Linked DNA regions of Homo sapiens. The protein of the gene in region 3 purifies or fractionates together with the protein of the main gene of each other region. This does not show direct contact. Each region holds a gene or a part of one and is shown on either strand. Other genes may lie near its edges.

Region 1 (8,011 bases), on a different chromosome or scaffold from region 3:
CCTGGGAGGCGGAGGTTGCAGTGAGCTGAGATCGTGCCATTGCACTCCAGCCTGGGCTACAAGAGCGAAACTCTGTCTCAAAAAAAAAGAAAGAAAGAAAGAAGGAAAAACTGGCCTCAGTTACATATTTAGAAAAAGAAGAAGTATTTTAATAATTGTCAACAAGTGCAGTCAGTTTTTTTTTTTTTTTAAACAGAGTTTTGCTCTTGTCGCCTAGGCTGGGGTGCAATGGTGCGATCTCAGCTCATTGCAACCTCTGCCTCCCAGGTTCAAGCAATCCTCCTGCTTCAGCCTCCTGAGTAGCTGGAATTACAGGCTAATTTTCTTTTCTTTATTTTTTTTTTTTGAGATGGAGTTTTGCTCTTGTTGCCCAGGTTGGAGTGCAGTGGCATGATCTCTGTTCACTGCAACCTCTGCCTCTCAGGTTCAAGCAATTCTGCCTCAGCCTTCCGAGTAGCTGGGATTACAGGCACATACCACCATGCCCAGCTCATTTTTTTGTATTTTTAGTAGAGACGGGGGTTTTACTATGTTGGTCAGGCTGGTCTTGAACTCCTGACCTCAGGTGATCCACCCGCCTTGGCCTCCCAAAGCGCTGGGATTACAGACGTGAGCCACCGCACCCAGCTACGCCTGGCTAATTTTCTGTATTTTTAGTAGAGACGGGGTTTCACCATGTTGGCCAGGCTGGTCTCGAACTCCTGGCCTTGGGTGATCCTCCCACCTCGGCTTCCAAAGTGCTGGGATTACCCGTGTAAGCCACCATGCCTGACCTGTTTTTCTTAAAGTGATAAACTCATTTCATTTATTTTTGAAAAAATGTTTGCCAAATACTTAAATATGAACAACTGTACTTTGTGAGTCATTCTTTCAGGTAAAAATAATGTTCCATGAAAAAAGCTAACCACTCAATTACAAGTGGTTTTCTTTTCGATGACCATTCTACTTAGATATGCATTAGCTGGGCATGGTGGCGTATGCCTGTGGTCCCATCTACTCAGGAAGCTGAGGCAGGGGAAGATCGCTTGAGTCCAGGAGTTTGAGGCTAAAGTGCTTCATGACTGAACTTGTAAATAGCCACTGCACTCCAGTCTGGGTAACACAGTGAGACCCCATCTGTAAGAAATTTTTTTAAAAACATACTTTATGATTACTTCTCATTTTGTCATACTGAAGGTTAAAAAGACGTATAATTAAGGGTCAGGGTTTAACGAAATGAATACTGTTTATGGCTTTATTAAGGATATTCCTAAGGGAAACTGATTTTGCTTACAACGCCTATGTAACTGAAAAATACAGTGACTACTACAACATTTTGAATCCTACTGCCTTGATTTATTTTAAGGGACTGTTTTAATTTAGGAATTTTAAGATAGAGCATGCTTCTTCAATGATTAGTAGAAACACAGATATAAACAAAGATTTTATTACTTACATGCCTGGCGGGGCATCTGGCGCACCTGGAGGTCAAGGAATGCAGTCAGGGAAAGACAAAGAGGGACTCATGAGCCAATGCATTTATTGGGTTCATGGTGTTTTCCAAATAGATTTCCCAAGAGGAATTCCCACACTTTAATTGGTGGGTTTAAAGCAAGCATGCACAAATTTGAGGACAAGCTTGTCAGCCCAGAATGGCTTTGAATGTGGCCCAACACAAATTCGTTAACTTTCTTAAAACATTGTGAGATTTGTGATTTTTTTAAAGTTCTCAGCTGTTGTTAGTGTATTTAATGTGTTGCCCAAGACAATTCTTCTTCTTCCATTGTGGCCTAGGGAAGCCAAAAGATTGGACACCCCGTTCTTGGAAGTCATGCTGTGACCGAGGTAGTCACTGTGGCATATCTGCACAGTCCATGTAGGACGTCAGTGTCAGCAGGGCCGGTGAAGTAGGCTGTATGTATTTATCCTATGGGGAGGCGGGCACCAGGAGGAAGTTTTACACAATAGATACCTGGATTGATCACATTGAGGAACTGGGAGGAGGTGTAGAACTAGAAACGGTGTCAAGGGTGACTGAACCCTGTTTCTGATATGAGAAAGTCCAACTTATATTCAAAATAAATGCTAAGACAACATAAAATTGTAAGAATTTGGCCGGGCGTGGTGGGCCACGCCTGTAATCCCAGCACTTTGGGAGGCCGAGGCCGGCAGATTGCCTGAGGTCAGGAGTTAGACACCAGCCTGACCAACATGGGGAAACCCCATCTCTACTAAAAATACAAAAAAAATTGGCCGGTCTGGTTGCGCATGCCTGTAATCCCAGCTACTCAGGAGGCTGAGGCAGGAGAATCGCTTGAACCTGGAAGGCAGAGGTTGCAGTGAGCCAAGATTGCGCCATTGCAATCCAGCCTGGGCAACAACAGCGAGACTCTGTATCAAAACCAAAAAAACAAAAAAACGAATACACTACAGGCACCGTAGATTTACCCACTGTTAACCCATTTCCCATTTTCCCTGAGAATACTCTCTGATGGTGCTTGCAGCTGCAGCCTTTACCCCAAGATAACTCACAGATTACAGTCCCGACTTAACCCCCAAAGTTTGTGTCTACTATTTTATTATTTTTGCATCACTCTATTATATTGACTTTGGAAACAAAAGACATTATTCTATTTATAGCATTCTGTTTTTAGTAGTGGAATTTCCATTTACAAAATATAGTAATTCTCGACTGCTGAAAATGTCAAATCCTAGAAAACATAGCATTCCTATGTGTGATGTTAATTCCATGGTGAACTTATGGCACTGAAATGGTGTGACAACAAGGCAGTCACAATGTTGTCAATATTCCACAATGATACTGTGATTGAAGTAGACAACAGATGGAAAGAAAACTAAGAAGCCATGTGTCATTGTGGATTATAACGATAATATGGGAGCAGTGGACTTGGCTGATCAGATGCTCACTTCTTATCCAGCTTAGCGCCAAAGGTACAAGGTTTGGTATAAGATATTCTTTCATAGGCTGTGTGCAGTGGCCCACGCCTGTAATCCTAGCACTTAGGGAGGCTGAGGCGGGTGGATCGCTTGAGCTCAGGAGTTCAAGACCAGCATGGGCAACATGATGAAACCCTATCTCTACAAAAAATACAAAAATTAGGCCGGGCACAGTGGCTCACGTCTGTAATCCCAGCACTTTGGGAGGCTGAGGCGGGCATATCACTTGAGGTCAGGAGTTTGAGACCAGCCTGGCCAACATGGTGAAACTCTGTCTCTACTAAGAATGCAAAAATTAGCCAGGGGTGGTGGCAGGGCCTGTAATCCCAGCTACTCGCAAGGCTGTGGCAGAATTGCTTGAACCCAGGAGGCGGAGGTTGCAGTGAGCTGAGATCGCGCCACTGCACTCCAGTCTGGGCAATGGAGCGAGACTCTGTCTCAAAAAAAAAAAAAAAAGTCGGGTGTGGTGGCGGTCACATGTAATCCCAGCTACTTAGGAGGCTGAGGCACAAGAATCGCTTGAACCCAGGAGGTGGAGGTTCATTGAGCCGAGATTGTGCCACTGCATTCCAGCCTGGGTGACAGAGTGAGATTCTGTCTCAAAAAGAAAGAGATTCTTCTCCACCTTCTAAACGTTAAAGTGTTGAACTCCCACATTCTGTTTAAGAAGGACAATCCTGAGCACACGATTAGCCTTGTAAACTTTAGACTGACAGGCCAGGTGCAGTGGCTCACGCCTTTAATCGCAGAACTTTGGGAGGCTGAGGTGGGCAGATCACAAGGTCAGGAGATTGAGACCATCCTGGCTAACACGGTGTAAACCCTGCCTCTACTAAAAATAGAAAAAATTAGCTGGGCGTGGTGGCGGGTGCCTGTAGTCTCAAATACTAAATAGCCGGGCATGGTGGCGCACACCTGTAGTCCCAGCTGCTCGGGAGGCTGAGGCAAGAGAATCGCTTGAACCTGGGAGGCAGAGGTTGCAGTCAGCTGAGATCACGCCACTGCACTCCAGCCAAGGCAACAGAGGGAGACTCAGTCAACAACAACAACAACAACAACAAAAAGGCAGAGCGCGGTGGCACGGGGCCTGTAATCCCAGCACTTTGGGAGGCCAAGGTGGGCAGATCACCTGAGGTCAGGAGTTCAAGACCAGCCTGGCCAACATAGCAAAACCCCGTCTCTACTAAATACACAAAAATTAGCCGGGTGTGGTGGCAGGCGCCTGTAATCCCAGCTACTCAGGACACTGAGGCAAGAGAAGAGCTTGAACCTGGGTGGCAGAGGTTGCAGTGAGCCGAGATCACGCCATTGCACTCCAGCCTGGGCAACAGAGTGAGACTCTGCCTCAAAAAAAAAAAAAAAAAAAAAAAAAGCAAAGGGTGTCGCCTGTAATCCCAGCACTTTGGGAGGCCGAGGCAGGCGGATCACTTGAGGCCAGGAGTTCGAAACCAGCCTGGCCAACATGGCAAAACGTCGTGTCTACTAAAAATACAAAAAATTAGCTGCGCGTGGTGGTGGACGCCTGTAATCCCAGCTACTTGGGAGGCTGAGACAGGAGAATCGCTTGAACCCGGGAGGCGGAGGTTGCAGTGAGCCGAGATCACGCCATTGCACTCCAGCCTGGGCGACAGAGGCTCCGTCTCAAAACAAAAACAAAAACAAAAAAAAAACAAACCAAAACAAAAAACCAAAAATTAGCCGGCACCTGTAATCCCAGCTACTCGGGAGGCTGAGGCAGGAGAATCGCTTGATCCCGGGAGGCAGAGGTTGCAGTCAGCTGAGATTACGCCACTGTACTGCAGCCTGGGCGACAGAGGCTCTGGCTTAAAAAAAAAAAAAAAAAAAGGGAAAGGATGTTATAGAAACTCCAGATACTACTTCTCCCCTCCAGTGGTCTGAGTTGCGCGGCGCTTTCCCGCCTGTCCGGTAGGGCGGTGCCGCGCAGAAAGCCGCGGTCCCTCTGCGGAAGGCGCCGCTCTTGGCTTCGGCGGCGCCGCTGTAGCTTGAAGGCGGTACTTCCTCCAGCATTTGCCGCAAGTTATTGGCAAGTTCCCCTGCAGTTGTTTGGGCTGTCCCTGTGGCTGGTTCTGGGGTGTGCGGCCAGCCATGGAGCGCTCTGGGCCCAGCGAAGGTGGGTTTCATGAGGCGAGTCCGGGCGGGGTGGGCCGTGTCGGGGGAGCTGGGGCGCCGCACTAACTAGGCCGCCTCTCTTTTCCTCTTGCTCCAGTGACAGGCTCAGACGCGTCGGGACCGGACCCGCAGCTTGCGGTCACCATGGGCTTCACGGGGTTCGGTGAGTGACTGCCCCAGGCAGAGACCCTCTTCCTTGTGCAGAGGTTTGAAGATCCGCAGAGTGGGAGTGGAGATCGAGCTGTCAACTCGGAATTATTGTAGCTCGGGTGCATACCTTGCAGTTTGTCAATATTCTTCTCCCATTTGTCTTCTATTCTGCGTTATCCGTTGGAACCAACTCAGATGACAGTTATGAGAGTCTGGAGAGAGAGGAAGAGAAAGGATTTTTCTAATTTTAAGTCACCAATAATGCTAAAATGAACATTTTTGTAAATAACAGCATTTGTACGAGGATTTTTAAAAATACGTAATTCGGTAGGGTAGATTTCTAAAAGAGAGTGTAGTTTATTCAGAAATATAAATACTTAAAAAGCTGAAAAATTGGGTATGTGCCTTTTAAAGCTTCTTGATGCTTATTGCCGTAATACCCATCAAAAAACTTGTTCCAGGTTATACCAAAGTTAACAGAATTAAGAATGCCATTTTTACCATATCCCTACCAACACAGAGTAGGTATTATTATTTAAAAAGAAAATTATTTAAAAAATGAAAACAAAACTTAGTAGACTGATACATGAAAAATGATTTCTCTTTATTTTCCATTTTAAAATTATAAATGCTGTTCATCCAAACATTGGGATTCTAACTTCCCTGAACCTTTTCTCAAGGTCTTCTTGTTTTCTTTTGACCAGCGTGTATTAATTCTATGATAGTAATTAAACAGTAGACTTACACATATTGGCCTTGGGTTGTGTTCACACATACTAGTTCTGTAGTTTCTCTATTCATTCTTTTTTTTTTTGGAGACGGAGTCTCGCTCAGTCGCCCAGGCTGGAGTGCGGTGGCAAGATCTCGGCTCACTGCAATCTCTGCCTCCCGGATTCACGCCATTCTCCGGTCTCAGCCTCCCGAGTAGCTGGGACTACAGGCGCCCGCCACCTCGCCCGGCTGATTTTTTTTTTGTATTTTTAGTAGAGACAGGGTTTCACCGTGTTAGCCAGGATGATCTCGATCTCCTGACCTCGTGATCCGCCCGTCTCGGCCTCCGAAAGTGCTGGGATTACAGGCGTGAGCCACTGTGCCCAGCCTTTTCTATTCTTTTTTTATTTTTTGAGATGGAGTCTCGCTCTGTCACCCAGGCTGGAGTGTACTAGTGCGATCTTCGCTCATTGCAGCCTCCTCCTCCCAGGCTTAAGCCATCCTCCCACCTTAGTCTCCTGAGTAGCTGGGACCACAGATGTGTGCCACCACACCTGGCTAATTTTTTATACTTTTGGTAGAGACGAGGTTTCACCATGTTGCCCAGGCTGATCAATCTCCTGAGCTCAAGCAGTCCGCCCACCTGAGCCTCTCAAAGTGATTACAGGCATGAGCCACCCCACCCGGTATAAATCCTTCATTTTAGTACATCATTCCTTTACTCAGGAGTGAGAAAGTTGTCCATATGTTTGTGCCAAATAGGGGAAAATTTTAAGAGTTTTGATAAAGTTACTGGGGGAGGAGGAGAATGTTTCCATGCTCATCCAGTTCCTTGTTAGAGGGCTGAGATTTCTGTTTCCCTCTTAGCTCCTTAAAGTACCTGCATTACTTCTCATGTTGCCCCTTTCGTCTTCAAGCCAACTATAATGCCTCAAATTCTTCTCAGACATTGGATCTCTCTGACTTCTTCTGCCATAGCTGTTCTGCATCTTTGCCTTTAAGGGCCAAATAGGATAGTTTCCCTATTTAAAAGTCCATAACCTTAATTATATTGCAAAGGGTAACTTTTGGGGCATTCTCCATTTTGCCTCCCCACATCAGTGTTGTTGTTTCATAGGGTAGGGATCTAGAGGAGGATGGGAAAGTTGCCTGGTTAATAGTACTTAGTGAAGGGATTGTCAGCAGAAGTTTTCTGTGACTCAAACTCCTTCTTCTGTGATATATTATGGTTATATTGGAGCCATGCTATAAACTAGACAAAGTAAGTGTTTATTGATCAGTATTGATCACCTAAAGTTTGGCCAACTTACTGCAAGACAATCACAGTCTCCCATTTGTTCATGTTTTAGGTAAAAAAGCTCGCACATTTGACTTGGAAGCAATGTTTGAACAAACTCGAAGGACAGCTGTGGAAAGAAGTCGCAAAACACTGGGTAAGAAGCTCAGATATTTGTTCTTTTATTGGTTTAAGTACTATGTATACCTCATGCAAGTATATTAAAAAAGAGAAAAGAATGTTGGCTGGGCGCGGTGGCTCATGCCTGTAATCCCAGCACTTAGGGAGGCCAAGGCGGGCAGATCACCTGAGGTCAGAAGTTTGAGACCAGCCTGGCCAACATGGTGAAACCCCATCTCAACTAAAAATACAATAATTAGCTGGGCATGGTGCAGGGGCCTGTAATCCCAGCTAGTCGTGAGGCTGAGGCAGTGGCTTCAGTTGAAGTCGGGAGGCAGAGGTTGCAGTGAGCTGATATACCCCCATTGCACTCCAGCTTGGGGGACAAGAGTGAAATTCCATCTCAGAGAACAAAGAGAGAAAAGAATGTTGTTATGCTACTTATCACTGTTGTTTTTTTTTTTTTTTGAGATGGAGTCTCGCCCTGTTGCCCAGGCTGGAGTGCAATGGCATGATCTCGGCTCACTGCAGCCTCCACCTCCCCGGTTCAAGCGATTCTCCTGCCTCTGCCTCCCGAGTAGCTGGGACTATAGGCACATGCCACCACGCCCAGCTAATTTTTTGTATTTTTAGTAGAGATGGGGTTTCACTGTGTTGGCCAGGCTAGTTTCGAACTCCTGACCTTGT
Region 2 (7,213 bases), on a different chromosome or scaffold from region 3:
ATGACAAATTCACAGCCAACATCATACTGATGAGAGAAAAGTTGAAAACATTCCAAGAACTGGAACAAGACAAGAATGCCCACTTACACTACTGCTATTTAACATAGTACTGCAAGTTCTAGCCAGAGCAATCAGGCAAGAGAAATAAAAGGCATCTGAATTGGAAAACAGGAAGTCAAATTGTCCCTGTTTGCAAATGATATAATCTTATATCTAGAAAAACCTAAAGATGCCACTGAAAAAGTATTAGATTTGATAAATGAATTCAGGAAAGCTTCAGTATTCAAAATCAAAACAAAAAATCAGTAGCATTTCTGTACCCTAACAACATCTAGCTAAGAACAAAATCAAGAAGGCAATTCTACTTTTAATAGCTACAAAAAGCTCACCTCAGAATACATTTAACCAAAGAGGTGAAAACTCTCTACAAGGAAAGTTACAAAATACTGATGATAGAAATTGTAGATGATATAAACAAATGGAAAAACATCCCATGCTGTTCAGAGGAATTAATAATGTTACAATTATCATACTATCCAAAGCCATCTACAGATTCAATGCACTCCCTATCAAAATATCAACGTCATTCTCCACAGATTTAGAGAAAAAAAATCCTAGGCCGGGTGCGGTGGCTCACAGCTGTAATCCCAGCACTATGGGAGGCCAAGATGGGCATATCATGAGGTCAGGAGTTCAAGACCACCCTGGCCAACATGGTGAAAACCCATCTCTACTAAAAATACAAAAATTAGCCGGGCATGGTGGTGCACACGCGTAATCCCAGCTACTCTGGAGGCTGAGGCAGGAGAATTGCTTGAACCTGGGAGGCAGAGGTTGCAGTGAGCCGAGATCATGACCCTGCACTCCAGCCTGGGTGACAGAGTGAGACTCTGTGTAAAAAAAAAAAAAAAAAAAAAAAAAGAGAAAAGAAAAAGAAAAAGAAAAAAAATCCTAAAATTCATATGCAACCGAGAAAGAGCTCAAACAGCCAAAGCAATCCTGAACAAAAAGAACAAAGCTGGAGGCATAACTTCACCTGACTTCAAATTATACTATAAGGCTATAATAACCAAAACAGCATAGTACTGGTATAAAAACAGACACATAGGTCAATGGAACAGATAGAGATCCCAGAAATAAAGCCACATATCTACAGCCAACTGATCTTTGACAAAGTCAACAAGAACAAGCATGGGGAAAATACAACCTCTTCAATAAATGGTGCTGGGAAAATTGGATTGCCATATGCAGAAGAATGAAACTTGACCCTTATCTCTCGCCATATACAAAAATCAACTCAAGCTGTATTAAAGACTTAAATGGAATACCTGAAACTATAAACATACTAGAAGAAAACCTACGGAAAACCCCTCTGGACATTGGTCTGGGTAAATAATTCATGACTAAGACCTCAAAAGCACATGCAACAAACAGAAAAAGAGAGAAATGGGACTTAAACTAAAAATCTTCTTCATAGTGAAATAAACAGTAAGCAGAGTGAAGAGACACTTGCAGAATGGGAGAAAATTTTTGCAAGCTTTGCATACAAGAGGGGACTAATATCTAGAGTTTACAGGGAACTCAAACAGATCAACAACAACAACGAAACCCAAATAATCCCATTAAGAAGCAGGCAAAGAACACAAATAACACTTTACAAAAGAAGACATACAAATGGCCAACAGGCATATGAAAATATGCTCAACATCATCACTAAACATCAGAGAAATGCAAATTTAAACCACAATGAGGCCGGGCGCTGTGGCTCACGCCTGTAATCCCAGCAGTTTGGGAGGCCGAGGTGAGCAGATCACCTGAGATCAGGAGTTCAAGACCAGTCTGGCTAACATGGCGAAACCACGTCTCTCATAAAAAATACAAAAATTAGCCGGGCATGGTGGTGGGCACCTGTAATCCCAGCTACTTGGGAGGCTGAGGCGGGGAGAATTGCTTGAACCCAGGAGGCGGAGGTTGCAGTGAGCCGAGATCAAGCCACTGCACTCCAGCCTGGGCGACAGAGCGAGGTTGTGGGGGAAAAAAAAGAGATATTATCTTACATCAGTCACAGTAGCTGTTATTAAAAAGACAGGCCGGGCCGGGTGCGGTGGCTCACGCCTGTAATCCCAGCACTTTGGGAGGCCGAGGCGGGCAGATCACGAGATCAGGAGATTAAGACCATCCTGGCTAACACGGCGAAACCCCGTCTCTACTAAAAAATACAAAAAAGTAGCCAGGCGTGGTGGCGGGCCCCTGTAGTCCCAGCTACTTGGGAGGCTGAGGCAGGAGAATGGCGTGAACCCGGGAGGCGGAGCTTGCAGTGAGCCCAGATCGCGCCACTGCACTCCAGCCTGGGCGACAGAGCGAGACTCCGTCTCAAAAGGAAAAAAAAATCAAAACAAACAAAAACAGGCCGAGCTCGGTGGCTCATGCCTGTAATCCCAGCACTTTGGTAAACTGAGGTGACCGGATCACCTAAGGTCGGGAGTTTGCGACCAGCCTGACCAACATGGAGAAACCTGTCTCCACTAAAAATACAAAATTAGCCGGGTGTGGTGGTGCATGCCTGTAATCCCAGCTACTCAGGAGGCTGAGGCAGGAGAATTGCTTGAACCTGGGCGGAGGTTGCGGTGAGCCGAGATCGGGCCACTGCACTCTAGCCTGGGTAACAAGAGCAAAACTCCGTCTCAAAAAATAAAATAAAATAATAAAAATAAAAAGACAAAGAAGATGTTGGTGAGGATGTGGAGAAAAGGAAACTCCTATACACTGTTGGTGAGAAAGTGAAATTAGTATAACCTATGGAAAACAGTGTGGAGAATTCTCAAAGAACTAAAAATAGAATTACCATTTGATAAAGCAATCCTGTTACTGAGTATCTACCCAAAGGAAATCATTATATATATAAAAAAAATACCTGCACTCATATGTTTATCACAGCACTATTCACAATATCACAGGTATGGAATTAACCTAAATGTCCATGAATGGATGAATAAAGAAAATGTGTTATATATACACAATGGAATACTATTCAGCCATAAGAAAGAATGAAATTGTCTTTTGCAGCATCATGGATGGAACTAGTGGCCACTATCTTCAGTGAAACAACTCAGGCACAGAAAGAAAAACACATGTTTTCACTTTAAGTATGAGCTAAAGGATATGTACACATGGATGTAGAGTGTGGGATGATAGACAATGAAGACTCAAAAGGTGTGGGGGGGTTTCAGGGATAATCATAAATTACCTGACTGGTACAATGCATATAACGTACTATAGGGCGTGGATACCTTAAAAGCCTTGACATCACCACTACACAACTGATGCATGTAACAAAATTACACTTGTACCTCATAAATTTATAAAAGTTTTTAAAAGCCAAAAACAAAAGAATTCTAGAAAACTTGTATCTGCCTCTGTGAATGTCACCTCTTCCCAATACTTAAGATCAATAATGATTAGTGGATATTTTCCGTTGGTGCAAAAGTAAGTAATTGCGGCTTTTGCCATTAAAGTAAACCAATATTTTCCAACTGGCCAATACATGATGTTACGAAATCATGCGTGATAAAAGAATCCATTCAAAGTGCAGTGTAGACCAACGGATTTTATGTAATAGAGTAGAAAAAGTTCATCTACGTGGTTTCAGATTGTACACTAACAAAACTATCCCTTGTTCGACTTGTATCTTTATATACTTTAACAAAAACAACATACGCAACAGATTAAACATAGAAGCAGATATGAGAATCCAGCTTTCTAGTAAGTCAGAAAAGACTTAAAAAGCGAAGCCACTCCTTACTAAATTTTTTCTTTTGTAAAATATATGTAATTTTCATTAAAATATTATTTATGTTAACATGTAATGGGAATTTTACGAATCTGTTATTAAAGTGTAAAGCAAAATAAGACTTTTACCATTTCAGTAAAGCAGGGACTAGAACACTTGTAACCTAATTTACATCCCTCCAACCGTTGAGCCATTGGTGTCAAGTATTTTAATTCTCTTTAAAATTTAAAACCTGCAAGCGCGGGAGCTCAGGGACCTGGCCAGGAAGGCCTGAGCTTCCGGGTCATCTTAGCACGCCCCCTCCCGGTGGCCCTTGGCCGGAGCCCTCCGGCGCGGGAGTAACTCCTCGCAGAGGCCTCTGGGAGTTGTAGTTTTTTTGCCTTTGCCTCTCCATGACGCAATTCCTGTGCGACATACGTAGCGGCCGCCATTGTTCCGCGCCGATGGCGAGATCCTTGTTCCTCAGATAGCGTTCATCGCCCGTCGTGGTCAACGGGCCAGCCGAGTCTGGAGTGGTTGCGAACCCTTCTGGCTGCAGATCTGGAGGTGGAGGCAGTACCCTGGACTCTATTCTGCTGCCCCTTCAGGGTTTGGAGGAGCCGGAGGTGCGGAATTCCTCCGGTTTCAAGGCGGCGGGACGGGACAGAACTAATCTGCCTTAGCTCTCTCCTGCTGCTGACCCGGGGCGGTTGCCTGACCCTAACCTGTGTGTTGGTGAGGGTGTGGAGATGGTGAATCCCGTGCTGTGGGAGGGAAGGAGCCTCAGCTCCGAGAATGGCAGGCAGCCCTGGTGCCTCGGACCCTCCCCCTCTGGGTTTGGGGACTGCTGGGTGACCTCTTTCTTCACTGTGCTCTCTCTTCTAGCATCCCTCGCGTCCTGTCACTTCCAGCGAGGCACACAAAACTGACCGTAGGGATGGCCACCAGGGTCCGGACAGCTTCTATTTGGGTGAGTAGGGGTTTTCTTTCATTCTTGAAAAGCTCTCCCTGAATGCCAACGTGTGCGCACTCCATCTACTCCAGTCTGAATTTGCCAGGAGCTTTCTCACCCCACCGCTCTTTTAGGCAACTGGATCGTCATTTATAGCATGTTAGACTTTCCAGAAATGCTTCTTGTCATCCGACTTCCTTTTTTCCTCCTTTCATCAATCTCTTTTCTAACAACTTTGTACGCTGAACTTTGGAGTTAAACAAGGGATACTCACACATCTTTCAGTTTTTTCAGCCTTTATTTACTGAGGGCCTTCTGTATCTGGGATCTTTAAACCTTATTTTGGAAATTACAAACTTTTTTATTCACTTGTTCAACATTTTTTTTTATTGTATTTTGTTTGCTGGACCCTGGGGCAGGTGCTAAAAATGCAAAGATGGGTTGCTTATCATCCCTGTCTTGAAGAACAGTGGTCTAGGAATGGTGGATAAGAAAGACAATGACAAGTTAATGAGTGCTCTGGGAGCAGGCTGTGGAAATACACGGAGACATGCAGGAATGGGTCAGTTTTGGAAGTAAGGACACCCCCTAACCCCTTACTCCCAAATGCTTCAATGATTAAGAGATTCTTAACCTTAGGTTTGAAAGATGACAAACCTAAAGTAGACAAAGGATTAAAACCAGCCTAGGAAAAAGAAGTAACGTGCAAATTTGAGAGGCTTGAAATGACCTCATGTGGTGAACTTTGGGCACTTTAGGGTTGCTAAAATGTTGAGTTTAATGGTGATAGTAGAGTTATATTAAAAAATGAGGCTAGAGCCGTAGGCCTAAGATCATAGAGGGCTTTGAGGACCCCATTAAAAACTTGGATTGTATCACATAGGGCAGGTGGTCCCCAACCCCCACGCTTCAGACTGGTACCAGTCTGTGGTCTGTTAGGAACTGGGGTGCATGGCAGGAGGCGAGTGGCGGTTTAGTGAGCATGACTGCCGGAGCCCCGCCTCCTATCAGAGGCTGCATTAGCTTTTCATAGCACAAACCCTATTGTGAACTGCGCATGCGAAAGATCTAGGTTGCGCACTTCTTATGGGACTCTAATGCCTGATGATCTGAAGTGGAACAGTTTCATCCAGAAGCCATCGCCGCACCCGACTGCCCGTCCATGGAAAAATTGTCCTCCACAAAACGAGTCCCTGGTTGGGGACTGTTGGTATAGGGGAAGGAGTTTACTTATTGAAGTGTTTTCACAACGGATTTGAGGGTAGAACAGTCTAGTCTGCAGCAGGTAAGAGAATATAAGGGTTTAAGTAAATTAGTGGTTTTGAGAAAGGAGAGGAGGTGGCTGGGTGCAGTGGCTCCCACCTGTAATCCCTGTTACTCGGGAGGCTGAGACAGGAGAATCGCTTGAACCCAGGAGGCAGAGGTTGCAGTCAGCCGAGATCGCGCCACTGCACTCCAGCCTGGGTGACAGAGCAAGACTCTGTCTCAAAAAAAAAAAAAGGAGAGGAGGTAAAGAGGCAGAAGAAATTAGATTTCATAACTAGTTGGGTGCAGTGCTAAGAGAGGCAGAAAAGCCAGGGATGACAACTGGAGTTCTACTCTGTGGGCCTGGTTGGGAGTGTCACCATTTGCTGAGTAAGGGAAGACTGTCAGAATTGTGATTGGTAGAGGGGGAAGATTTCAGTTTTGTATGGATTGGCTCCTCTAGGTAGAGGTTGCAAATTAGGTGTGGCCAAAGTAGCTCAGGGAGAATGTGTACCCTAAGAAGAGAACTGAGGACAGTGGTCAGGGAAATGACAAGAGAAAGCAGGGGAAGAGGTGTTGAAGACTGAGATGGAACCCAAGAAAAGTAAGACAAAATAGAGACATGTAATTCACACTTAAAGAAATGGAAACCTCAAAAATGCTTGTCAAGTGACATGTATGAGGGAGATCAAGTAATATTAGATCATTGTCTTAGTCTGTTTGTGCTACTGTAACAAAATATCACAGACTGAGGAACTTATAACAGATACTACTTTCTCACAATTCTGGAGGCTGACAAGTTGAAGATCAAGGTGCTGGTGAATTTGGTATCTGATGAGGCCTGCTTTCTTGTTTTCTTTTTTTTTTTGGAGACAGTCTCTCTCTGTCCCCAGGCTGGAGTGCGGTGGCGCGATCTTGGCTCACTGCAACCTCTGCCTCCCGGGTTCAAGTGATTCCCCTGCCTCAGCCTCCCAAATAGGACTACAGGCGTGTGCCACCACGCCCAGCTAATTTTTTTTTTGTATTTTTAGTAGAGACGTGGTTTCATTGTGTTGGCCACAATGACCTCGATCTCCTGACCTCATGATCCACCTGTCTCAGCCTCCCAAAGTGCTGGGATTACAGGCGTGAGCCACCGCACCCGGCTCTGCTCTCTGCTTTCAAGATGGCACTTTCTTGCTACATCCTTACATGGTGGAAGGGGGCAAAAAGGGAAGAATGCTGTGTCCTCACATGGCCAAAGAGAT
Region 3 (7,022 bases):
TGACATAGAAGGAAAACAAAGGTGAGAGAGGGTGAGAAGAAACTATTACAGACTAAAATGTGTGGACCTTATCTGAATCCATGTTTGAACAAACCACTGTAAAACAAAACAAAGCAAAAAAACTATAAAAAGACATTCTGGGTCAATCTGATAAATCTGTACATGAAATAGGATATTAGATGACACTTAAGAGCTGCTGTCAACTGTTACGTATAATGATGTTTCAAAAAAAAGGGCATGTATTAGTCACTATTGCAGAAATTTTGGTTGAAAGGATAGGATGAGATTTACATTAAAATACTCCAGCAATTAGAAGACGAAGAGGTGTTGGTGGTGATGGAGATAATGAAACAGAATTGATAAAACCTGTTGAGGCTGGGTGGCTAATTTCTCCCTTTTATATAAATTTGAAAGTCTCAGCCAGGCATGGTGGCTCACGCCTGCAATCCCAACACTTTGGGAGGTCGAGGTGGGTGGATCACCTGAGGTCAGGAGTTCAAGACCAGCCTGGCCAAATGGCGAAACCTCATCTCTACTAAAAAATACAAAATCAGCCGGGCGTGATGGTGGGCACCTGTAATCCCAGCTACTCAGGAGGCTGAGGCAGGGAGGATTGGTTGAACCCGGGAGGTGGAGGTTGCAGTGAGCTGAGATCCTGCCACTGCACTCCAGCCTGGGCGACAGAGTAAGAGTCCATCTCAAAAAAAAAAAGAAAAGTCTCCATAATAAAAAGTTAAAAAAAGAAAAATGGGTGTGGAGGTTAAATTTATAATTCAAACATACTTGTTTGGTAGTCTAAAAATAGGCTGATGAGACAGCAGTCTCTGCCAGAGCAACCACATTAAAAATTGTGTTTAGATTCTCAGGAAGGCCTGCCAAAGCCCATTTAGTTGGTAGCGTTTTTCAAAGGGGTACTTGTTGACATTGTGGGTAGATCAATTCTTTGTGGAATGGGAACTACCTTGGACACTGCAGGACATTCAATTCAGCACCACAGGCTCAAGACACCCAAAGCCAACATCACCCCCTCCAGTCACTGTAACAACAGAAGGAGAAAATCTCCCATTTCCCCAGAATGTCCCTGGGAGCATTAAGGAACCAACTCTGGTTAAGAACTGCTTCATTAGACCACATACTGTCGATTTACGATTAAAAAAAGAGAGACAATAAAGAGGGCCACAAAAATATTAGTAAAGAATTAATTGGCTATTGAAAAGGCAATTTTTAATTTAAAAAAGAGTCTGTCTTATTAATTCATGGTGGCAGTTGGGGATAAATAAGAAAAGCATACATACAGTCAGCATTTTTCAATGACTGCTTCTTTTTGGAAGGTTTGGAGATGACTTTTATCCGCTTGCTGAGGAACACACCAATGTCATCACTGTTGCCATAGAACATCTTTACAGACAACATGAAGTGCTTTCGCTTGTCTGAGTCAGATATATACAATGTTTTGGCTGTGCAATAGTTCTGTGAAAGAAAAGTAAAGTTTTAACAGCAGCAAAACCTTGTTTGTTTATGTAGTACCTAAAACTCAGAATGGCCATGGTTTAAGTAATAAGTAAAACAATTCCAAGGGATAGCTGATAAAACCAACTCTAAAAATTATCAACTATAAAAATTACTGAAATTGATTTCGGAAAAGTACAAAGTCTTCCTTATAAAGTCTGTAGAACACAAACATTGTCATCTATTGTATCCTCTTTAAAAGACCATTTAAAAAAACAGCCTTTTCTTGTTTTACATAGCTCTACAACTGTATCATGGAATTATCACTCAACGTTACAGCAGTAACTTTTAAAATAAATTTTACAGTTAAAAAAAATCAATGACTTTCTCCAAAAAAAAAATAATAATAAAGCTATCAGAATTCAAGAAATTATGTAAAAGATTTTAGCAGTAGTTCTTCTCAAAATAGTGCATAAAATATTTTTCTTTATATAGCTGAACACTAGAGTAATCACTTATAAGATTGAGGAAAACAATGATAGACAAACTGGATGATTATAAAATATCTTAAACCAGAAAGAGATTATATAAGCATTACTTTAAAGAACTATTTTTAAAATGGTTAACTTTGCCCAAAAGGACGATTCATATGTATCACCAGAAGAACTGAATTTAAAGGTACTAGAGAAAATGCTCAAGGCATTATGTCAGTTTACCAGAATTTAAATTCTGATAACTGAAAAGATAAAGAGATATAGCACTTTACAAACAGCAAAGACCCTTCAAAATGCTACTGCTTATATTATATATAACAATTCTAAAATCTTTCCTATTCTCTTGATCCCTGTGAATCAGGGAGGGGTCTAAATTATTGTCCTTTTCCAGATAAGATAAATGATGCTGAAACACAGCATAAGTATCTAAAGTATCGAATTATATTTTTTAAAGGATCAACATTCCACTTTAAAATTAAGCTAAACAAGTTTCTTCAACTGCCTCTCCTGTATCTTCCTTTTAAAAAGCAGAGCAAATGCTACTCAGGAAACAGTTAATGACTTCTAGGTTTTTATCTTTAAAATTTTATTCACAGACAGCCTCGGTAGCAGACAAAACTACTGCAATAGTTTATTGTATTTCTCATAGCAAAGCTATATAAGAAAATTTAGATGCCATCTTGAACATTATACATTTAACTAAGTTTTTAAAAATCAAAAGTTTGGTAAAAGCTTTGAGAGGTTTTGCTCTGTAGAAGGCAAAAATAAGATAAAGCCAATCATAGTAATAAATAAAAACAGGCCAGGGTGGTGGCTCATGCCTGTAATCTCAGCACTTTGGGAGGCCAAGGTGGACAGACTGCTTAAGTCCAGAAGTTTGAGACCAGCCTGAGCAACATGGTGAAACCCCATCTCTACGAAAAACACAAAAATTATCCAGGCATGGTGGTGCATGCCTGTAGTCCCAGCTACTCAGGAGGCTGAGGTGGGACGGTCGCTTGAGCCCAGGAGGCAGAGGTTGTAATGGGCCGTGATCCCACCACCGCACTCCAGCCTGGGCGGCACGGTGGCACCCTGTCTCAAAATGAATAAAGATAAAGAAACAAAAAACAACAGTACTTTGCAGTCACATCACTCCTTGCACCCAAGATCTCTAACGCACTCAGAGATGGCATCTGTGAGCTGCTATACCCATAGGTCGGCCATACTCTTAAAAGTGACAGACAGCATTGAAGGTCAAATTAAGCCTAAACAATGAAATTCTTCTGCAACATAAGACGAGGTCTATGAAAATGGGTATCAATGTACTAAAGCAGACAGTCATGGGAAGCAAAAATGAAATTTATATCTAAATGAAGGTAATTACATTCTAATGGGAAAGCTTAAAAATGTTGAGATGGCTTTTGAGTGTTAAAATTAAAAGGTAAGATCCATATCAGAAAGAGAAAATACTGAAATCCAGCATAAATAAGACATATTGGCAAACAAGAACGGAAAAAAAGAACCAAGAAGGTTGGATCATAAGACCTACACAAAAAGAACTGCATTTTGTTCGGAAAAAACAAACACACATATATCTCCTTGGAAAGAAAGGAAATATATCCCTAATTACAATGAGTAGTTTGAATCCACAAAAATCATAATCAAGATAATTTTATGGGAACTATTAGTTTTAAAAAACTATAAGGCCACTGACCACAAACTACTCAAATTCCATTAAGAAAAGAAGGAAAAAGTCACTGACTCATAGAAAATAAGCAAATAAAACTAAAATTACATTTGCCTTGCTATTGCAAAAGGTTAAATTAGCTAACGGAATTCTAGAAGAGAAAATGGCATATAATCATCTCTCTAGAAATACTCTTTGAAAACAAGATCTTTAGGCAATAAAAGACATTTCCCTGAAAGAAAGAAGAAATACCAAATCTAATGCTGCAAAGTGATACTGCAGAAATGTTTAAATTATAGAAACAAAATGTTACCAAGAGTATATGATGTTTAAAAATAAGAAAAACACAAGAGTGTTAACTAAGTCATCCTTGTTGCGTAGCTTACCTAGCTGTGACTATAAAAAATGTAAATTTTTTTAACAAATTAAAAACATTACACAAAATCTAAGATCCAACATATTACCTACATACAGCCAAATGTCATGACCATAAATTTAAAGGGCTAGATATACTAGAATTTTGTTGCAGTGAATATTTAAAATAAGTATAAACACCAAAAATTGCAAAATGAATATCCCATATTTCTCAATAACTAATTGTACCACTCAATGAACAGACTATTTCCTTACACGAATGGAGTTTAAGTGAGGCAGACAAGAGCAAAGTGCCTCTCACTGAAGCTCAGAATCCGCTGCTCAGGACATCTTTGCCTACCTTGGTCAAAACCATGTTCTTATACCTTTATGCTCTAAGCACATGATTATATTGTTTTTTTTTCTGCCTGGGATGCCTTCTACTAACTCTCACCAGTCTTGCTTTACATAAACTTCCCTAATAGAATTTTTCCTTAAAATTAAATATTAACATATAATTTTGGCTTACAGACATTGTACTAACCTATTACTAGGTATTTTAAATACTAGTTAAATGCTCAAGCTCTCAGGTATTCTATTCCTCTTCTGCCAGTTTCTAGGCCTTGGGGAAAGGGTATACTAGTGGAAGTTGAAGAAAGATATAATGAAAAACAGCAGAAAGATCTCCATGTTGAGGCAGCCCCTAAAGGTACAAAATTAGGATGTGGCACTACTAAGCCACAATGCTGCGAAAGGCAAGCAGTGATACTACTGGTTGGTTTATTTGGTATCACCTCATTTAAAATTACTGGAAGCTGGAACTGGTTAAAATGAGCAATGAAGTAGGATTAAACAGTTATACACACAGGTAGCTAGAATCCCTGGCTTCTCACTACCTATCTGATCCACTCATTCATAGTACTGAATGTCTACATGTGAAGCCTGGAGACATATAACTCTGAGACTTCCTAGGTAACAAGAAAACAGATGAGACAAGACTTAAGATCTATTAGATCAACCCACCACTTAAATATATTCGTTACTTTAGCTCAGGGATCATAATTTAGAAATAGTTTTAGTGGTTTAAGATGAAACAATCTTTATTGTAATAAGTATTATCCCAAATCTAATTTAAAATACATAGTCAACAAATCTTACTTACAAAAACTATAAAGATATAAATGACATACAAACAGCTAAATTTGAAGGAGGTTGACATTAAGACCTGTAGTACTATCTGTAAAATCACTAAAATTCAATTTGAGAGTACAAATCCCCTAGCTCACCTCCACCAACACTACTCCCAACCCATATACCTAGTGCCAACTACAACATAGCAAACACTAAAATATTCAACAAGGATGTATCAAATAATGAAACAGCTGTTTATGCGCTATTTTAGAAGATGTTTAGTCATTGAGATCAGAACTAACCATTTTCCAAAGTACAGTAGCAAGGAAAAATAAAACCATAGCTAAATTCTAAGTGAATAAAAAACTATCTTTCAATACTAAAAGTATAGATTGGCTGGACACGGTGGCACACACCCGTAATCCCAGCACTTTGGGAGGCTGAGGTGGATGGATTGCTTGAGCTCAGGAGTTCAAGACCAGCCTAGGTAACATGGCGAAACCCCATCTCTACAAAAAAATACAAAAAAGTTAGCTGGACATAGTGACACACACCTATGGTCCCGCTACTTGTGAGGTGGAGGTTGCAGTCAGCCAAGATTGCACTATTGCATTTCTGCATGGGTGACAGAGTAAAAACCCTGTCCCGGGGGAAGAAAAAAAAAGATCTAGATTGACTGCTTTCTAAATTCATACAATATAATCAGTAAAACTAGCTGATAGATTGTTTTCTCTAGAAAATTAATTGAAGAACCCCTGCCACGCACTAAAATTTGAGTAAAGCCAACTGTGGCTGTTCTTGTCTACAGTATCACTCTGCTTCACTCTGATGTCAAGTAAACGTTTATGATCGTTATAACCCAGATAAATGCTTTCCACAATGTATATATCATCGTGTCTAGTATAAAACTAAGATTAAAATAGCAGAGTAAAACATTACTGAACAATGTATTTTTGTTGATAAACCTCTGTCAAACAGAAGATGAGCAATCAGCCTCCTAAATTTATTACTGGCTTCCAATAGAAATCTGATTTATAGTCTGCTAAAACTGCTTGCAAGCTGGGGAAGCTTACTGCATGCCACCTTCCAATGTCAGCAGCGTAAGCTTCATGAGTGACTAGACCAAAGCTATGAGAGGCATGTTTTTTGGTCCTAGTTTATATATTCAAGAAATTGTTACCAATAGTTATTAAAGAAAAAAATCTCCACCACAAAAATGAATATGAAAACTACATTCTGGTACCATGGTGCCCCTTTCTGGTGAACTAGCAGTCTTGATTTACCTTTCCTTCCAAGTTTAGCTGCTGCATTTCTTGGTCACTATTTCCTATCCCAATAAATGCACACGGTTGAGACTCTTGTTCAGAACAACCATCGCGTTCCATTTGTTCTTTTTTTTTCTTCCATCCACTGCCCATAAGATATACACAAGGAGGTGGGCAAAAAAACCTGAAGAATAATAGGGGAAAAAAAAAAACAAGAAGCAAAAATCAATTAGATTCAATAAAGCATTTCCTTTCCTTGAACATTATGAATACAAAATCATATTGAAATGCACCTATTCCCCAATGAAAAATTTTGGTGAAGCCTTTTGTAATGCAAATAATCATGCCCACAGGACAGAAATCGGGACTTCCACAATGACTAAATCTGTTCAGGCAAAATATTGGAGTTATGCATACAGTTAGATTAAATACTTTTTAGAGTACAGAACTTCTCTTTGTATGGCTCAGAGTTCTAAATTACCAGAGTTCAGCAAATCCAGTGTACTCTAACATATTACAAAACACGATAAACCACCACAAAAATCTGTAATTACTAATTAAGGCCTATTCAAAATGACACAATCATTAATGAGTGACATTACTATTATGGATACTGCATTTAACTTAATGTGGTAATTAACCTGGAAAATTGTGTTAGAG
Region 4 (7,495 bases), on a different chromosome or scaffold from region 3:
TTTTTAAGAAAATGTTTATGGGTTAGATTGAGAAAAGTGTATGTTTATAGAAAACAATAAAGACTAAACTGAATTAGAGTAGGCATAATTCCACCACCTCTGAGACAACCATTCTTCTTGGTGCATTTTCTTCTCATCATTTTCCTCATTTTTTTCCTCAAATAAGTTACCCTCAGTCTGGCTGATCTTGAAAATATGGTGAACTTTTATTATTTTTTAAATGTGCTAATTATAATGAATTTCTTTTCAATCAATAGGAGGATGAAATTTTGAACAGATCACCAAGAAACAGAAAGCCACGAAGAGAGTGAAACAATCTTAAGAGCTTGATCTGTGATTTCTTCTCCCTCCTCCCCTGCAAGAGTGGTCCTAGGAGAGGACCTGGCACACCTTAGGTTGACATTCAGAAAACTTCAAGACATCACCATCAGCAGGCTCCAGTTGAACACTAGTCTGTGTAACTTTAAACATCTAGCAGTAAATACTTGCAGTTGTGATATAAAGGACCCTGTTTCTGTAGAAAAGAAAACATTTAACATAATGGTTGTGAAATGTAACATGAAGCAAACTAACTTTTTTTTTTTTAACATCTTTGTTTTTAAAATAGAATGATAGAACTTTGCCAGTCTTTAAGATCTTGGCTTAATTTAATGTATTAATCTGTTTGTGCAAACATAATACCACCATTTAAAAATGTTAGGGAGATGAGTTGCAGTTTTTATAATAGATTTTTTTTAAAGTTTGGTATTGTAAAACATTCACACCTCTGTCCCTCAAAATTGATAATTACGTTTAAAGTGCAGTCATTTGTGGTTAGAATCTTGTTTTGTTTGCTTCCATTATTGAGTTCCTCCTAAGGAAATTGAGGAGAGGGACTGAATAGAAGCCCAAATTCATATAAAAGTTGCGTTTAAGTTGTATTAAAAATAGATATATAAGAAAAAATTCTTTCACTTGATGTTTGTTAGACCAGAAAGTGTGTGTGTTCTGTAGCTCAGTTCCCAGACAGCTTTTTAGGTAGTGGAGGAGGTGGCTTCATGTGGCACTTGGGCATTTATATTCCACTTGGGAGGGTCAGGCTGTGGCCTTCTGGAGCAGGTGGCTTGTTAAGGAATGCTAGCAGGGCATGGCACGTGAGCTCCGGAATAGATGTCTTCATCACTTCTTCCACTGTGTGTTGACACTGTTTTCCTTACCTATTTCCTCAGATCCCCAGCTTTCTCCTCTGCTATGCATTTTCTTCACAGTGCAGCTTGCAGTCCGTTGCTGAAAATGATTATAAGCCCTGCATAATGTTAAGCTTTATTGTGATTACGTGTATGTTTCTTCTTTCTTTTAAGCAGACCCATACCTTTCCAGGGTCAAAGTACAGAATAGAATACATTGATACAAAGTACAGAAAAATACTTTGATTTTTATCCATTTCTTTTACTCTGTGTAAAGACTTGAGAAGTCTAATTCACAGGCAAACCAATACAGAATTGACTGCAGTTGAACAGACTAGAAGTATTTGTGGGAGGAGTGACATGAAGCATGAGTTATCTGATTTTTTTTGTAGCTGCTATATATTTTAAGCCTTCATTTGCAATTCATGTAACAGTTGTGTCATAAATTACACAATAAAGCAGTCCTGTTCAAATTTTTTTTTAACGTGGCTTGTAGAATTTTTAAAAAAGTGATCTTAGGTTTGTTTTTTCATGCGGGATGCAGATGGGTGCTATCAGAGCCTCTCCCACACCACTATAGTGTAATAATGTTATTATTACTCTACACTGAAACGTATTCAGAGTTAGATATTATTTTAGCTTCAGTTGTTCTTTAGAGGCTTTCAAATGTACCGATGATACTGTTTCTTGCACTGAATATATAAACACTCCACAGTGTTTATATTGGGAAGATATTGGGAAGGAAATATATTTGTAAAAGATGAAGGCTGTATCTATTTTTTTTTCTTTTTAAAGTTTGTTCACTTAAATTCTTTTGAGGATGGGATGTATTTTTCTTGCTGTTCAGTGCTTTTTCCTTTTCATCTGTTGTTCTGTGGTCACAGTGACCTTAGCTACATAGCAGACTTTCCCAAATGTATTGATTACAAATAAACAGTTGTTACTTAGCAAGACCTGAAAATATGTCTGCAGGTTTCTCCTTGAAGCAAATGTGTGGGATCATTGCATTTCCAGAAATCTGCCTCCTTCACCCTCCGTTGACAGTATATGTCATGCCTCACTTTCTTCTAGCTGAGCTTTAAATCATTAGAGCTTAAATTGTCAGATCGTTCATTGCCTTTCCAGGGTTATTTAGTAAAGTTTGTTGAAAACAAAAACGCCTTTTCTTGGTTCTTTTTTCAGTTATTTTGAAGGTCCAGCATCCTGATTAAATGTCTGACACATTAATGAATGACCAGCAGCAGCTTTCAGCTCTTAAAAAGACACTTATATTTTGATTTTACATGCTGGTTACCTGTTCCATTGTTGTCAAATGCCCACTCTCCATCAGATGTGTTCCTCCATTTTCTTATCCACAAAGTACTCCTCACTTTTCAATTTGTCATGTTACTAAATGGTGTTACATTAAAGCCCTGTGTTAAGTGTCTGCTTTTGACTGAATTTCTTCATAGTAACCTTCAGTGTGTGTGTGTGACTATGTTCAATTAGTGGGTTGATCTTCGTATAATTGGCCACTATGTGAGAGTTCACTACTAGGCAGAAACTATTATGGACAGTGAAATAATGACTTTTATCTCACCACGTGAGTTTGATGCAGTCTTTTCTGTCTAGCCCTTGCCTCTTCCTGCCCATGTGATTGCGGTGCAGTAGTTTCTGTTGTATAATAGTGTGGACAGCAGCTCAGAAAAGGAGGGAATGCTACTGATAATTTGTAGATAATATTCTTTAAGACTTAGGGGAACCATTGAACTTTGAAATTTTTATTAGAAAATTATTTGTTCAGAATCAGACTCCATTATTTTACATATACTTAAATACTTTAGGGGTATTTTTGAAAGTTAGCCCAGTTTTTTATGTGCTATTAAATTTTTAGATTACATACTAAAGAAAAGTATGTACACAGAATGTAGTGCTCCTAGTTACTATTTTTTCTATTAAGAAATAGTTTAGTTCTGGTGTAAAATTTGTTTGAATGCTAAAAAAAAAAAAGCAGGACTGCATTATGGCACTTTTGCCTTGGTGGCCCACTTTCTCCATTTAAAACATTAGGATTTGTATTTTTCTGCTGCGTTTGTATGAAGACATATTTGATTGTTGTTTTCTCTTGATTTTAAAATAAAACCTCATGAGCCCTAGTAAAAAGCTAGAGTAACGAATGTTTGAACTACTGATGGTGTATCTCAATGTGCAGCCTCCTGCCACCTCCTGCTTAACCTTTTAGCAATTAGAGTGCCCATATCTAGAGTTCCTGATATCCTTTGGCATCACACTATCTAGTTTTAGTACTAACACTGTTTGATTGCTCCAGTCCCTCTACTCCCCTTTGCCTATTAGTTTTAATAATGGGGCATAATTTGTCTTGGTTTGGTTTTGTTGAGTAACTCAGTTTTACCTAAAGGACTGTTTTTGGTCCGGCGCGGCGGCTCACGCCTGTAATCGCGGTACTTTGGCAGGCCGAGGTGGGCGGATCACCTGAGGTCAGGAGTGGGAGACCAGCCTGACCGACATGGAGACACCCCGTCTCTACTAAAAATACAAAATTAGCCGCGCGTGGTGGCGCATGCCTGTAATCCCAGCTACTGGAGAGGCTGAGGCAGGAGAATCGCTTGAGCCTGGAAGGCGGTGGTTGTGGTGAAACGTCGTCCTTTGCATTTCCAGTTCCCTCTAATGGAGCTGCACTCTTGCATGCTTTTGCTCACATCTTCTGGACTTTTTTTTTAAGTAGTGAGTAATACTGCACTTTTGAAACTTGCTCGGGCTTTTACAAATAGGTGGAAACTACCAGTGATTCGGAATGTTGCAAGAGGAAACTACCAGCTCACTAGACGATTCTGACCAATTATGGGGCTGGATACAAGGAATAAGGTCAAAGTAAAACGGCTGACATTAAAATAGCGTGGCTACTTAGAGTTTATCAAAGTCGAAATTTAAAAAATAATTTAAAAAAAAGGTCTCTGTACTGCCAGGCGGGCGACAGGGACTGGCCAGCTGCGCCGCACTCGCCTGCCAGATTCCCCTTTTCTCGGGGTAGCCGGAAGGGCCTGCCTTCAGCGGGTGCTGTGCAGGAAACCAATAGCCGCCTCTTGGACGGGCTCCTGTCAGTCACGCTTAGCTCCGCCCCCAGGATTAAGGCCCGCCCAGGGGCTTCCCTCCGCCCTTCGCTTGAGAATTCCTTTTAAATACCGCTCTGGCGCCCGAGCGCGCCTCTTGCGTGCTCGTCCCCACGCCCTCGGGCGGCCGGTTCTTCCTTCTCTGATTGGCCAGGGCCCCTGCTCATCAGTCGTGATGCACAAGGTCTCTTACCGAGGCCCCGCCTTCTTCCGAGAGGCCCGAAAACAATTTTAAGATGGCGGCCGCGGCGGTAGCGCGGAAAACAATGGGGCCGGGGCGGTGGGGAGAGGCCGAGGCTTGAGGTAGGCAGCAAGCGCCGGCTGGGGGTCGGGCCGAGCGGGGCAGGAGGAAAACCCGCCGCCGCGCGCGAGCCCGCTCCGCTGCCCTCGGGGGCATGGCGCGGCCGTGAGGCGGAGAGGGGTAGCCGCGGGGAGCGAAGCCCGCAGTGCCAGCCGGCCCCGAGAGGCCCGGCCCCGGGCCCGGCCCGTGCAGCCCGCGGCCCATGGTGCTGCCCACCTGCCCCATGGCGGAGTTCGCGCTGCCGCGGCACAGCGCGGTCATGGAGCGCCTTCGCCGGCGCATCGAGCTGTGCCGGCGCCACCACAGCACCTGCGAGGCCCGCTACGAGGCCGTGTCGCCCGAGCGCCTGGAGCTGGAGCGCCAACACACCTTCGCCCTGCACCAGCGCTGCATCCAGGCCAAGGCCAAGCGCGCCGGGAAGCACAGGCAGCCGCCCGCCGCCACGGCCCCGGCGCCCGCCGCCCCGGCCCCGCGCCTGGACGCCGCTGACGGCCCCGAGCACGGCCGCCCGGCCACGGTGAGTAGGGCGCGGGAAGGCGCTTGTCGTGGCGGCAGCCCCCTCTCCCGAAAACGCTTCCTCTGACGCGGATCGGGCCGCTGGGAGACTTCCCCAGGCGTCCGCGACTCCTGGATCTGGCTGGAGAGAGGGTAACATGGCAGGGAGCTGAGAGGTTGTCATCTTTGGGAAGTGGCACGGTGGCGTTACTTTGGGAAAACAGCGCCTTGAGGGCCTTGCAGGAGGCCCGACCTGGGAAGGCTGGCGAACGCTAACCGGAGGGTTTTTCTTCCAGACTTGATTCCGGGATGTTGAGATCTTTATTCGAAATAGACTAGCATTCGAGTCGCCTGTGATGGAGGGAGTTCCTGCACCGTAGGCCTGGCCTCATTTATTCTGCAAATGTTTATTGGGTCCTTGCCCTTTACAAGATCCTGTGCTGTGAGCAGGATCAGGGCTTTCATGTGGAAATAAGTCGGCCTTTGGTTGACCAACTGAAACTCCTCTGAATGGAAAATCAAGAAATTTTTGGAAAACTTAGTAAAATGTTCAATGAGTTGCATATAAGTATTCCTTGTTTAGGTAGCCTGAACTTTGTGAACTTGAGATTCCTGCAATATTGTTGACAATTCTAGTTTTAATTTATCAGGCCTGTTTAAAATCTCTGATGATGTTAGATTGTTGGTCAATTATTACTCCCTTTGGGCTCTCAGTAAATGTTCCTGAAATTTGTTGGTTAGAGGTTTTTCTTCCTGAAACAGATTTACAAAAGAGACAAGGTTTTTCAGTGGTTTTCTTGGGGATTTTAGTTTAAAACCAATGTTAAAATCTAATTTGTTATGTGTATTTTTAAATTCATACCTTTATTATCTCTCACCTGGGCTATTGCAGTGCCTGTCCCTAGCTAACTAACCAGTCTGTAGGCATTTAGTTTCTTTCTCCCTTATTCTCGAAATGCTGGAAATCCTTCTCTTGCTTGAAAGGATGAAGTTCAAAGTCTTTAGTTTGGCATTTGGGACCAGTCTGACCTAACCTATCTTTTAATGTCCCTCACAGGTCCTCTGCTCTGGTTGAATTATTTTTCTCATTCTCTTCCACACTAGCCTCGATTGCTGGGTTAGAAGAAAAAAAACCACTCAGATTTCATTGCTTATTGTATCAACTGGTCAAGCCTTCTCATCTTCACTTTTCTCATCTGTAAACTAGGGGCATGTTGGGCTTATTATCGCCCCGTGTTCTTTCCCTGCCCTCCCCTCACTCTGTCGCCCAGGCTGGAGTGCAGAGGCACAGTCATGTCTCACTGCAGCCTCAACCTTCCTGGCTCAAGACTCCTCAATCCTCCCGCCTCAGCCTCCTCAGTCCTCCCGCCTCAGCCTCCTGAGTAACTGGGATCAACCACAGCTGCACATCACCATGCCTGGCTAAATAAAAAAAGTTTTTTTTCTGTTAGAGATGGGGTCTCACTATATTGCCTAGGCTGGTCTTGAACTCCTGGGCTCAAGTGATCCTTTCTTCCAACTTGATCTCTGAAAGTGCTGAGATTATAGGCATGAGCCACCGCACCGTGCCGCCCCCAGGATTCTTTTAAGAATAAAAAGAAATGAGTGTGGACATGAAAATACAGTATTTCGGGGGAAGGGATAGCATTGGGAGATATACCTAATGCTAGATGACGAGTTAGTGGGTGCAGCGCACCAGCATGGCACATGTATACGTATGTAACTAACCTGCACATTGTACACATGTACCCTAAAACTTAAAGTATGATAATAATAAATAAATAAATAAAATACAGTATTTCATAAATTTAAAGGCCGCCTGTGGGACCCTCCTCCATCCCTTTCAGAATCCTGCCACCCTGCCAGTCCCAGCTTATCTCTTTCTTCTGCCTTAAAGCTAGTTCCTGACCAGCCTAACCCACAGCAGTAAGAATCTCCTTTGTCAAAACATTTAGGAAACATATTATCTATGCTATTTGTTTTATTTATTTATTTATTTTGAGATGGAGTCTTGCCCTGTTGCCCAGGCTGGAGTGCAATGGCGCGATCTAGGGTCACAGCAATCTCCGCCTCCCAGGTTCAAGTGATTCTCCTGCCTCAGCCTCCCTACTAGCTGGGATTACAGGTGCTGGCCACCATGCCCAGCTAATAATTTTTGTATTTTTAGTAGAGATGGGGTTTCACCATGTTGACCAGGCTGGTCTCGAACTCCTGACCTCAGATAATCCACCCACCTCGGCCTCCCAAAGTGCTGGGATTACAGGTGTGAGCCACTGCACCTAGCCTATTTATTTTTTTTTGAGACAGCGTCTCGCCCTGTCACCCAGGCTGGAGTGTAGTGACATGATTTCTGCTCACTGCAACCTCTGCCTCCCCGGTTCAAGCGATTCTCCTGCCTCAGCTTCCTGAGTAGCTGGGATTAC

What was found.
Region 1: the proteins of RBPJ (region 3) and WDR70 purify together in Homo sapiens (affinity purification with mass spectrometry; 4 studies listed by BioGRID and IntAct, with this or other methods). This does not show direct contact.
Region 2: the proteins of RBPJ (region 3) and ZNF268 purify together in Homo sapiens (affinity purification with mass spectrometry; 4 studies listed by BioGRID and IntAct, with this or other methods). This does not show direct contact.
Region 4: the proteins of RBPJ (region 3) and MAML1 purify together in Homo sapiens (co-immunoprecipitation; 14 studies listed by BioGRID and IntAct, with this or other methods). This does not show direct contact.

The regions. Positions count from the first base shown.
Region 1 is NC_000005.10:37,374,325-37,382,335, forward strand, and holds the start of WDR70 (WD repeat-containing protein 70), read left to right. Parts: upstream 1-4,993; 5' UTR 4,994-5,043; coding exon 5,044-5,068; intron 5,069-5,164; coding exon 5,165-5,230; intron 5,231-7,277; coding exon 7,278-7,361; intron 7,362-8,011.
Region 2 is NC_000012.12:133,177,292-133,184,504, forward strand, and holds the start of ZNF268 (zinc finger protein 268), read left to right. Parts: upstream 1-4,203; 5' UTR 4,204-4,395; intron 4,396-4,654; 5' UTR 4,655-4,706; coding exon 4,707-4,739; intron 4,740-7,213.
Region 3 is NC_000004.12:26,414,999-26,422,020, reverse strand, and holds part of RBPJ (recombining binding protein suppressor of hairless), read right to left. Parts: intron 6,547-7,022; coding exon 6,381-6,546; intron 1,471-6,380; coding exon 1,296-1,470; intron 1-1,295. UniProt on the Homo sapiens protein: Transcriptional regulator that plays a central role in Notch signaling, a signaling pathway involved in cell-cell communication that regulates a broad spectrum of cell-fate determinations.
Region 4 is NC_000005.10:179,728,334-179,735,828, forward strand, and holds the start of MAML1 (mastermind-like protein 1), read left to right. Parts: upstream 1-4,488; 5' UTR 4,489-4,779; coding exon 4,780-5,094; intron 5,095-7,495. Other genes in the region: CANX (calnexin), read left to right, coding at 258-311. UniProt on the Homo sapiens protein: Acts as a transcriptional coactivator for NOTCH proteins. Has been shown to amplify NOTCH-induced transcription of HES1. Enhances phosphorylation and proteolytic turnover of the NOTCH intracellular domain in the nucleus through interaction with CDK8.